2 separate regions of the Homo sapiens genome follow, and region 1 is linked to region 2. Evidence: fine-mapped expression QTL. A gene starts in region 2. The other region holds a variant in brackets. All regions are shown on one strand. Distances are from middle to middle. Region 1 holds the start of TRAPPC9 (trafficking protein particle complex subunit 9). Region 2 holds the start of PEG13 (paternally expressed 13).

Evidence for each region. PIP is the estimated chance that this variant, and not a neighbour inherited with it, causes the effect.
Region 1: its variant is fine-mapped to the expression of PEG13 in neutrophils (BLUEPRINT, PIP 0.95).

The regions. Positions count from the first base shown.
Region 1 is chr8:140,454,969-140,460,338 of GRCh38, forward strand. It overlaps TRAPPC9 (trafficking protein particle complex subunit 9), which reads right to left and starts at 2,776. Exons shown (of 23, transcript NM_001160372.4): 1 at 2,671-2,776. RefSeq lists silencers at 2,321-2,370, 2,481-2,870, 2,961-3,200, 3,321-3,630 and an enhancer at 3,030-3,548. The variant A/G (reference allele first, on the strand shown) is at 2,893.
Region 2 is chr8:140,098,476-140,103,845 of GRCh38, forward strand. It overlaps PEG13 (paternally expressed 13), which reads right to left and starts at 2,060. Exons shown (of 1, transcript NR_144431.1): 1 at 1-2,060. All of the region lies in intron 17 of TRAPPC9 (trafficking protein particle complex subunit 9), which reads right to left. RefSeq lists an enhancer at 1,317-1,816.

The sequences.
Region 1 (5,370 bases), 360 kb after region 2:
GCCAGTTCTGGTATCTGAGACTAAGCTAATACAGGTATTAAAACAGCAAAAATATGTATCTTCAACTTGGTAGTTCCTCCATAGAGCTACTATAAAACCAGCAATCCAAGAGATCTGAAAACATGTGTCCACACCAGAAACATGTACAGGAATGTACATAGCAGTATTATTCCTCTTTTTCTGAGATGGAGTTTCGCTCTGTCACCCAGGCTGGAGTACAGTGGCAGGATTTCAGCTCACCTCAACCTCTGCCTCCCAGGTTCAAGCGATTCTCATGCCTCGGCCTCCCGGGTAGCTGGGACTACAGGCGTGAGCCACCATGCTCGGCTAATTTTTGTATTTTCCGTGGAGATAGGGTTTTGCCATGTTGTCCAGGCTGGTCTCGAACTCATGATCTCAGGTGATCCACCCGCCTCAGCCTCCCAAAGTGCTGGGATTACAGGCACAACATTATTCTTGTTTTTTGTTTGTTTGTTGTTTTGAGATGGAGTCTCACTCTGTCGCCAGGCTGGAAAGCAGTGGCGCGATCTCGGCTCACTGCAAACTCCGCCTCCCAGGTTCAAGGGATTCTACTGCCTCAGCCTCCCAAGTAGCTGGGACTACAGGCGCCCACCACCATGCCCAGCTAATTTTTGTATTTTTAGTAGAGAGGGGGTTTCACCATGTTGGCCGGGATGGTCTCGATCTCTTGACCTCGTGATCTGCCCGCCTCGGCCTCCCAAAGTGCTGGGATTACAGGCGTGAGCCACCATGCCTGGCCAGGCACAGCATTATTCTTAATAGCTAAGGAGTGAAAACAACACAAATGTCCATCAACTGCCTGATACACAAAATGTTAAATCTATACAATGGAATATTATTCAGCCACAGAAAGGAACAAAGTGCTGATGTAAGCCACAACATGAATAACTTTAGAGCACTGTGCTGAATGAAAGAAGCTAAATACAAAAGGCCACATGTTGTATGATTCCATTAATAGGAAATGCCCTGAATATGCAAATCTATATATATCGAAAGTAAACCGGTGGCCGCCAGGGGCTGTCGGAGGGGGGAATGAGGAGTGACTGCTAATGGGTATGGAGTTTCTTTCTGGGGTGATGAAAATGTTCTGGAATGACAATGGTAACACAAGTGTGAATATACTAAAAATTACTGAATTGGCCAGGCATGGTGGCTCACGCCTGTAATCCCAGTACTTTGGGAGGCCAAGGCGGGTGGATCACGAGGTCAGGAGTTCGAGAGCAGCCTGGCCAACAGAGTGAAACCCCGTCTCTACTAAAAATACAAAAAAAATGTAGCCGGGCATGGTGGCAGGCACCTGTAATCCCAGCTACTCAGGAGGCTGAGGCAGGAGAATCGCTTGAACCCAGGAGGCGGAGGGTGCAGTGAGCCAAGATCGTGCCATTGCACTCCAGCCCAGGCGACAGTGCGAGACTCCGTCTCAAAAAAAAAAAAAAAAGAAAAATCACTGAATTGTACACTTTAAAGCAGTGGATTTTATGGCAGGTAATCGAGGCTCAATGAAGCTGTTATTTTTGACACACTAGATTTCTGAAACATTTATTGTTTACATGTTTCCGGACAACTGTTTTTCCCTCTACACTACTAGTCCTCCACACAATTAAAAAAACGAACAAACACACACAACAAAACCTAGCCAGATCTTTAGGACGGCAATGTTCCTGGGCCTCCAACATCATCCACCCGGTGCTTTGTTTCAGGTTAACAAATAAAGATGTCATAGGTAGCTATGACTACCTTAGAAACACGGGACAGTCACCAGTTTAAACTGGGGCCGTGAGGGATGGAAGGGAAGTCACTCCCCCATACCTTTCAACTGGGCCTTGCTTCCAGCGTTTTAATTCCTCTCTCTATAGAAACATTTGAAGACAGACAACGCATCCTAACACGGGAAAACTTTCGGTTAACAGACATTCACGTTGGGAAGGTCTGCAGGGGTGGAGGGGATTGGGGTGGGCTGACAGGGAGAAGACCACAGGCCAGTAGCCTGACTTCCTCTCCCCAGGGTTCCCTGGGATAAGTTGGAGTTGACAGCGCGCTTATCCCAGAGAGCACCGCCTGATGCCGCCCAGCTAGATCGCAGGCACTTTGAATCCAGGAGACAGGAGGGAAAGGGCTAGGGGAGAAGTCCGGGAACTCAGGGCGGGGAAAGCGCCGGGGGCGTGGGCTGTGCTGGGCCCCAGGCCCCAGCCGCGCGTCCCAGACCCCGCGGGCTCCAGTGGGCTTAGCCAGGCCCAGGGGCGGGGGGCTCCAGCGCCGCGGACGGCCCGGGAGGGGAAGCCAGGCGGAGACAGCTCGGAGGCACAGAGGGGAAGGGGACCCCCGCCGCGAGCTCGGGAGAGCAGAGCCGGCCCGGGCAGCAGGTGTGGGCCGGGTCCCGGACAGGTGTCCGCCGAGTCTTCAGCGGGTGTGGGACACGGCCTTGGACAGATGTAAGCAGAGCGCCAACAGGAGCAAGGGCGCCTCGAGCAGGTGCACGCTGAACCCCGGCCCGGCAGCGGACCCGGACAGGTGTGGCGGGCTCCGCCCGGACAGGTGAGGGCCGGGCGAGCCCCTCCGCGGGACGCGCCGACTCCACGGCCAGCCGCGCAGCCCTCCCCGCAGCCGGTCCGAATTGCCTGACCGGGAGCCCCCCCGCTTTGCACTTACACAGCCGGTGGCCCCGGGCCCGGAGCGGGAGCCCACGACCTGGCGGGCAGCGGGGCCGAGCAGCCTCTGCGGCCACTTCCCAGGCTCTGGGCTGGCGCTTCCTACTGGCGGCCGAGCCGGCGCTGCTCCTGCGCGTGCGCGGAGGCCAGGCCTGGGCCCCCGATCCGTCCCGGGTTTTGCAAGAGACGCGAGGGAAGCAAGGGGGTAGGAGCGAGGGAGAAA[A/G]GAGGAAGGAGGAGCGAGGGAGAGAAGAGGGGACAGGGAGGGAGGGGACATGGGGAGGGAGGAGGAGGAGGGAGGAGGGAGAGAAAAAGGTGGGGTGAAAGAAGGAGGGAGGAGGAGCGAGGGAGAGAAGCGGGGACGGGGAGGGAGGAGGAGGAGAGTAGGAGGAGGAGGGGTGAAAGAAGGAGGGAGGGGCAGCGAGAGAGAGAAGCGGGGGACAGGGAGAGGGTGGAGGAGGGAGGAGGGAGGGAAAAAGGAGGGGTGAAAGGAGGGAGGAAGAGGAGGAGGGAAGGAGGGAGATGGAGGGAGATGGAGCGAGGAGGGAGGGAGGGACCGGAGCAAGAGAACAGAGACTAGGAGGAAAGCTTCTGCACCTGGGGCGGCGCAGCTGGAAGGAGGCCCAGTTCTGTCCCCGCCGCTTACCAGTCCTTCAGGGCGCGCAGCTCAAATTTCACTTCCTCTGTGAAGCTCAGGGGTGGAGGCCCCGCGGAAGCCCACTGTGGATCCCTGCGGCACCCCCTGTGACCCTCACGGTACCCCCCGTGACTCCCACGGTCGTGCCCCCCACGTGGGTGGGTGACCGTGGCGCGCGCGGCCTGGGAGCGCCTCCAGGATCGCAGGGCCCGGGAGGCACGTGAGGTGCGAGCCCCAGCCTGGGCCGGCTTCCCCCTGTGTGGCGCGCGGTCTTGATCCCCAGCTGGCACCATGGCACTCCCGACTTTGAGGGCCCCAACAATCCATCCACATAAAAGGTTCCAAAGAGGCGACAGGGGCTAGGACAGCTGTCGTTAGTTCAGTGCCAAGGCGCCAAGCTTGCTAAGTGCGGGCAGAAGCCATTTAAGGATTTAAACCCCTCTGGGTTCAAAAATAAAATAAAATAAAGCAGGAGATGGGGGAGGCTTACAGACTTAAGATGCCCAGCACATGAATTAACAGTGGCATCCGCAGGGAAAATTGAAAACAGAGAGCCGCTCTCCGTTATGTATGTTTAATGTTCTGTTTGAATCTTTTAACATGTACATGTATTTCTTTTTCAATTAAAAAATCCTGGCCAGGAGAAATGGCTCACACCTGTAATCCCAACACTTTGGGAGACTGAGGCGGGTGGATCACTTGAGGTTAGGAGTTCAAGACCAGCCTGGCCAACATGGTGAAACCCCGTCTCTACTAAAAATACAAAATTAGCCAGATGTGGTGGCGCGCGCCTGTAATCCCAGCTACTCAGCAGGCTGAGGCAGGAGAATCGCTTGAACCTGGAAGACAGAGGTTTCAGTGAGCCGAGATCATGCGATTGCACTCCAGCCTGGGCAACAACTGCAAAACTCTATCTCAAACAACAACAACAACAAACACTAAAAAGGGCTGGGTGTGGTGGCTCACACCTGTAATCTCAGCACTTCGGGAAGCCAAGGCGGGTGGATCACCTGAGGTCAGGAGTTCAAGATCATCCTGGGCAACATGGTGAAACTCCAGTCTCCACTAAAAATACAAAAATTAGTTGAGCGTGGTGGTACATGCCTGTAATCCCAGCTACTAGGCAGTCTGAGGCAGGAGAATCTCTTGAACCCGGGAGGCGGGGGCTGCAGTAAACCAAGATCACACCACTGCACTCCAGCCTGGGTGACAGAGAGAGCCCATCTCAAAAAAAAAAAAAAAAAAAATCCTAAAATGGAAAAGTAAAGAGGACAGGAGTGGTTTTCTCAGCACATACAGCAGCAAGGGAGAAATGGTCTGAGCCAGCATTTTTCCTTTCAGCCAGCAGGCACTTACCCGCTCTGGGCTATGTGACCAGGGCTGTTTTATTATCACATGTGTTATAAAATAAGATACTATCCCTCATCCCTGCTCAGGGCTAGTGGAAAACCAATTGAGTTTTTATTGAATTATTTTCTACAGAGTCAGAATGAGTTATAAATAAAACATATCTTCAGGGCAAAACAAATAGAGCTGATTTCCAGCCTGCCAGACAGCCAGGAAGTTTTCAACAGAGGTGCCCAGGGGCTGAGGAAGAGTGTCTCCCTGACAACGCACAAGCTGCCCAACGTGGCTACCTCATGGTGTTACGACCGCATGGAGGCCGTGCAGTGGCTCACAGCTGTAATCCCAGCACTTTGGGAGGCCGAAGCAGACGGATTGCTTGAGCCCAGGAGTTTAAGACCAGCCTGGGCAACACAGGGAAACTCTGTCTCTTGGAAAAAATACCAAAATTAGCTGGGCAGGATGGCACAAACCTGTAGCCACAGCTACTCAGGAGACTGAGGCAAGAGGATCGCTTGAGTCCAGCCAGGTCGAGGCTGCAGTAAACCATGATCACTCTAGCCTGGGAGAGACAGCAAGACCCTGTCTCAAAAAAAAAGTGGTTTTTTTTATTTTTTTTAAATGAATAAATAAACAAAAGAGCGTATGGGCTTAACAGAGAATACAGAAAAGATACATTTAAAAGGCCACTGCTAATGGAGGTCTGAGTGCAGAAACTAGGCT
Region 2 (5,370 bases):
TTCTCCGCTGCCATCCGCAGGGCAGGAACACCCGGCTAGGTCTCTGTACAGTTCCCGCAGCACCACCTTCCACAGTATAATGACGCCCGCCCCCGCAGTATAATGACGCCCGCCCGGGTTCTCCGCAGCCGTCCACTGGGTGGGGACACCCAGTTAGGTCTCAGTGCATGGCTTCAGCATCCCCGCGATGCACAAAGTAACGACGCCTCCTCCCTCCTCTCATCCTCTGCAGCCGTCCGCAGAGGACGACACCAGCTAGGTCTCAGTGCGCAGCTGCGGCATTCCTGCTATGCACAAAGTAATGACGCCCACCCAGGTCCTCCGCAGCTGTCCGCAGGGGAAGACACCAGCTAGATGTAAGTGCGCAGCTGCAGCAATCCCGCGATCCACAAAGTAATGACGCCCGCCCAGATCCTCCGCAGCCGTGCACAGGGGAGGACACCCAGGTAGGTCTCAGTGCGCAGCTACAGCATTCCCGCGATCCACAAAGTAACAACGTCCGCCCAGATCCTCCACAGCCGTGCACAGGGGAGGACACCCAGCTACGTCTCAGTGCGGGGCTTTAGCAGCGCTAGGCCATTCACAGGGTAAACACGCCCACCGGGGTTCTCCGTCGCCACCGCAGGGTAAGACACTCAGCTAGGTCTCAGTGCGCAGCTGCAGGAGTGCCGCAGTCCGCAGGGTACTGACGCCCTCCGTGATCCTGCGCAGCCTTCCGCAGGGGAGACACCCAGCTAGGTCTCTGCGCAGCTGCAGGAGTGCCGCAGTCCGCAGGGTACTGACGCTCTCCTGAATCTTCCGCAGCGTTCTGCAAGGGAGACACCCAGCGAGGTCTCTGCGCAACTGCAGTAGTGCCGCAATCCGCAGGCTACTGACGCCCTCCAGAGTTCTCCGCAGCCTTCCGCAGGGGAGACAGGTCTCAGCGAGCAGCTGCAGGAGTGCCGCAATCCTCAGGGTACTGAAGCCCACCCGGGTTCTCCACAGCCTTCCACAGGGGACGACGCACAGCTAGGTCTCAGCTGCTTCAGTATCCCGGGATCCACAAAGTAATGACGTTCGCCCAGATCCTCCGCAGCCGTCCGCAGGGAAGACACTCAGCTAGGTCTCAGTGCGCAGCTGCAGGAGTGCCGCAGTCTACAGGGTACTGACCCCCGCCCGGGTCCCCCACAGCCTTCTGCAAGGGAGACACCCAGCTAGGTCTCTGCACAGCTGCAGGAGTGCCGCAATCCACAGGGTACTGACACCCGCCCGGGTCTCTGCAGCCTTCCACAGGGTAGGAACACCCAGCTAGGTCTCAGTGCGCGGCTTCAGCATCCCCGTGACGCGCAGGGTACTGATGCCCACGCTGGTCCTCCGCAGCCTTCTCCAGGGGAGGACACCCAGCTAGGTCTCTGCGCAGCTGCAGGAGTGCCACAATCCTCAGGGTACTGACGCTCACCCAGGTCCTCCGCAGCCTTCCGCAGGGGAGATACCCAGCTAGGTCTCAGCGCGCAGCTTCAGCATCCCCGCGATCCGCAGAGTATTGACGCCCACCCGGGTCCTCCGCAGCCTAGAGCAAGGGACTGCGGAACGAGTGCCGCAATCTTCAGGGTATTGACGCCCACCCGGGTCCTCCGCAGCCAAGAGCAAGGGACTGCGGAAGGAGTGCCGCAATCTTCAGGGTATTGACGCCCACCCGGGTCCTCCGCAGCCTAGAGCAGGGAACTGCGGAAAGAGTGCCACAATCCTCAGGGTATTGACGCCCACCCAAGTCCTCCGCAGCCTTCCGCAGGGGAGATACGCAGCTAGGTCTCAGTGCGCAGCTTCAGCATCCCTACAATCCGCAGGGTACTGATGCCCACCAAGGTCCTCCGCAGCCGTCAGCAGGGTAGCGACACCCAGCCAGGTCTCAGCGCATGGCTTCAGGAGTGCCTCAATTCACAGGGTACTGACGGTCACCCAGGTCTTCTACTGCTGTATGCAGGGTCGGGACACCCAGCTACGTCTCGGTTCGCGACTTCAGCCGCAACATGATCCGCGTAGTAAGGACGCCTGCCCGCCCAGGTCTTCCATGTACCGCTGCGGCTCTGGCGCAGACTGCAGCGTAAACACCCCTGGTCGTACGTTCGGCCCCGCCCTCAGCCCCTCCCTTCCTGGGCACCATTGGGGCCTCCTTGTTGGCAGGGCTGTGCTCGCACCGGATCCGAAGCGGACTCTGCATTCAGGCTCACGCGCTCTGGAAGGGAAGGGCGCTGGAGATGAGGGTGGCCGTGCGTCTGCGAGCTGTGAAGCCTGTGTTTGTGACTGTAATCTCACTCACGGGTGACAGGGCCCTGAGGATGACTCCGTGTCCTAGACTGCGGGTATTAACATGGGGCCTCTTCCGTGCCTTTCCGAGGCGAAAGCCTGGGTGGGTTCGGAGGCGTCAGCGCTAAAATCCTATAGGCTAAGTTACAGGGCCTTCTCGCTTTATTAACTAAAGGACTAGTAACAGCCTCAGAGCGCTCCCTGGAGGACTATATGTGACGTACTAATTTCTAACAAAAAGTTGAAATTAAGAAATTTTCACCTTTTCATGTTTTTGTACATAGAGTGCTATTTGAACCATTTATGTTTTCTTATTTGTCCTTCCTCTTCTAGCCACAAGCCATCTTTTGGCCAGGCAGCTTTATTCCAAATCAAAATGAGCATATCTTTTTCTTTGAGACGGAGTCTCGCTCTGTCACCCAGGCTGGAGTGCAATGGTGCCATCTTGGCTAACTCCAGCCTCTGCCTCCCAGATTCAAGCGATTCTCCTGCCTCAGCCTCCCAAGTAGCTGAAACTACAGGTCCACACTACGATGCCTAATTTTTGTATTTTTACTAGAAATGGGATTTCACTATGTTGGCCAGGCTGGTCTTGAACTCTTGACCTCAGGTGATCCACCCGCCTCTGCCTCCCAGCTAGAATTACAGGCCTGAGCCACTGTGCCTGGCCATTAAAATAAGCATTTTAAAATACATTTTTAGGTGCTGATCACAGAGAAATATTTGAAAATTCTGGTTACTATGAACTTGGGTTGGTTTTGTAGGGTTTTCTTTTTTTTGTTTTTTTTTTTTTTTTTTGAGACGTAGTTTTGGTCTTGTCACCCAGGCTGGAGTGCAATGGTGCAATCTCGGCTCAGTGCAACCTCCGCCTCCTGGGTTCAAGCGATTCTCCTGCCTCAGCCACCCAAGTAGCTGGGATTACAGGCATGCACCACCACATCCAGCAAATTTTTGTATTTTTAGTAGAAATAAGGTTTCACCATGTTGGCCAGGCTGGTCTCAAACTCCTGACCTCGGGTGATCCACCCACCTCGGCCTCCCAAGCTGGGATTACAGGTGTGAGCCACCATGCCCAGCCTGGTTTTTTGTTTATTTTTTGTTTTTTCCTTTTTTTTTTTCTTTTTGGTAAATTTTGCATGAGGAAAGGAATGTCTTCAGAGTTGGGAAAAATATTTATTTCATGATGTTCTGGTATATCAATATTTCAGTTGCTATTTAGAATGTCTTATCCCAGTTAAATATCAGATTGGCTCCAGAAAATGCATATTGGAGAGTAGTGTGCTTTTTGTTCCATGTGGTTTTATATGCTGTTTTGTTGGTTTGTATTTGCCTAGTTACTAGAGTCCAAACTGTAACAGAATGTAGTTAAAACCAGTGATTAATGTAACTTATGATGCTTTGTAAGAGACAATAAATGTGGTATTTGGGGTTGTTGCTGTGATTACTAGTGCAACTCAAAATTATTGCTTCTCTCAAAGTTTGTAACACTCTGTGTTAACTTTAATTTTTAAAAATATGTCTAATGTGTTTTCCTGACTACCCAGGTGGAAATGAAAGAAAGAGATGTAATAGACTCATGTGAATTTAATGGAAAATCTTAGCCTGGGTCTCAGAGAAATTGAAATTCTTATAGATGTCTTAAGTTGGTATTTGGCACATAGTGCTAGACAATAAATATTTGTCCAATAAATAAAATACCAGCCTCCCCCCACCACACACACACACACACACACGCATGCACGCACACACACAGACATAGACATGGGGGAGAAGAAGACATAGTTTACCATGTTCTCTCCCACACATAACTTCCTCATTGGCTGGTCAACACACAACTCTTGGTTTGGTTTGGTCCTGCCTAGTTCACTGCTTACTTCTGTCTCTATCTTCTGATTAGAGTAGGTTGAAGGGAAGACAGAAGGAGAAGAGACTGAAGAAGTGAGCAGAGACAAGTTTTTCAGGAGGCCGGCCTGCAAAGGCCAACAAGAATGGCAGTGTGGACTCGGAGTACACATGGCTGCCTCTTGCACATGATGCTATCTTGCTGTATGATTCTGGGCAAATACTTTCAAGTCCTGCCTCTCACTCTGTTCACCCCCACTGAGCGAGGGGCTGGGCAGGATAAAGCTCAACCCCCCACATGCCTGTGGCTCCCATTTTGAGGGAGTTGCAAAGCTGAGTGTCTGAAGCGCCAGGATCATGTCTGACTTACGAAGATGAGGCATAATCCTGAGCAAACAAGCACCCAGTGATGAAATGAAGGGATGCTAGAAAGCAGGAATTCCACTAGCAGAAGGAGCATGAAAGACCTGCCGCTCCCCACTCCCACAGCACAGACGAGAGGACCGAGGGATGGGAGGTAACAACAGAGGGTTAGCAGTAGGGTTTCCTCATACTCAGCCTGAGACACCCTCCTTAATTACATCAGCGCTCTCTTCCAGACCCTCGATGACAATTGTTTACGAGCTTCCCTTTTTCAGAAGCATTTTTAGTGCAGCATTATCGGGGCAAATATTTACCTCCCTGTGCCTCAGTTTCCTCATCTGTAAACCAGGACTAGTAATAGGACCCACCTCGGAGAATTGTGAAGATTAAATGACAGAGCTCACGTGAGGCAGCGCCTCTCATCAGGGGCAATTCTGTCCCCAACCCCACCCACAGGGGAGCTTTGGCAATATCTGGTTGACATCCTGGTTGGTACAAGCGATTGGGGCAGGAAGGGACCCTACTGGCCTCCAGTGGGTTGAAGTGAGGGATGCTCCTAAACATCCTATATCCTGTAGCCCCCTCCAACCGCAAAGAATTATCTAGAAAAAATGTCATAGTGCTGCTGTTGAAAAGTCCTGATGTGAAATCTTAGAATAGTGCCTAGAATCTAATAAGTAGCAATGAAGAATAGTTGATACCATATTACTAATGATACCTTCATGACTACAAAGCACTCTCCTTAGCCATGACGCTATCTCAGCTGGTCTTCACAATGACCCTCTGAGATACACACGACTATTCTTTTTACAGATGAAGGTACTAAGAGGTTCTAAGACAAAATGTGACTTGCCAAGAGTTACCCAGCTAAGAAGAAAC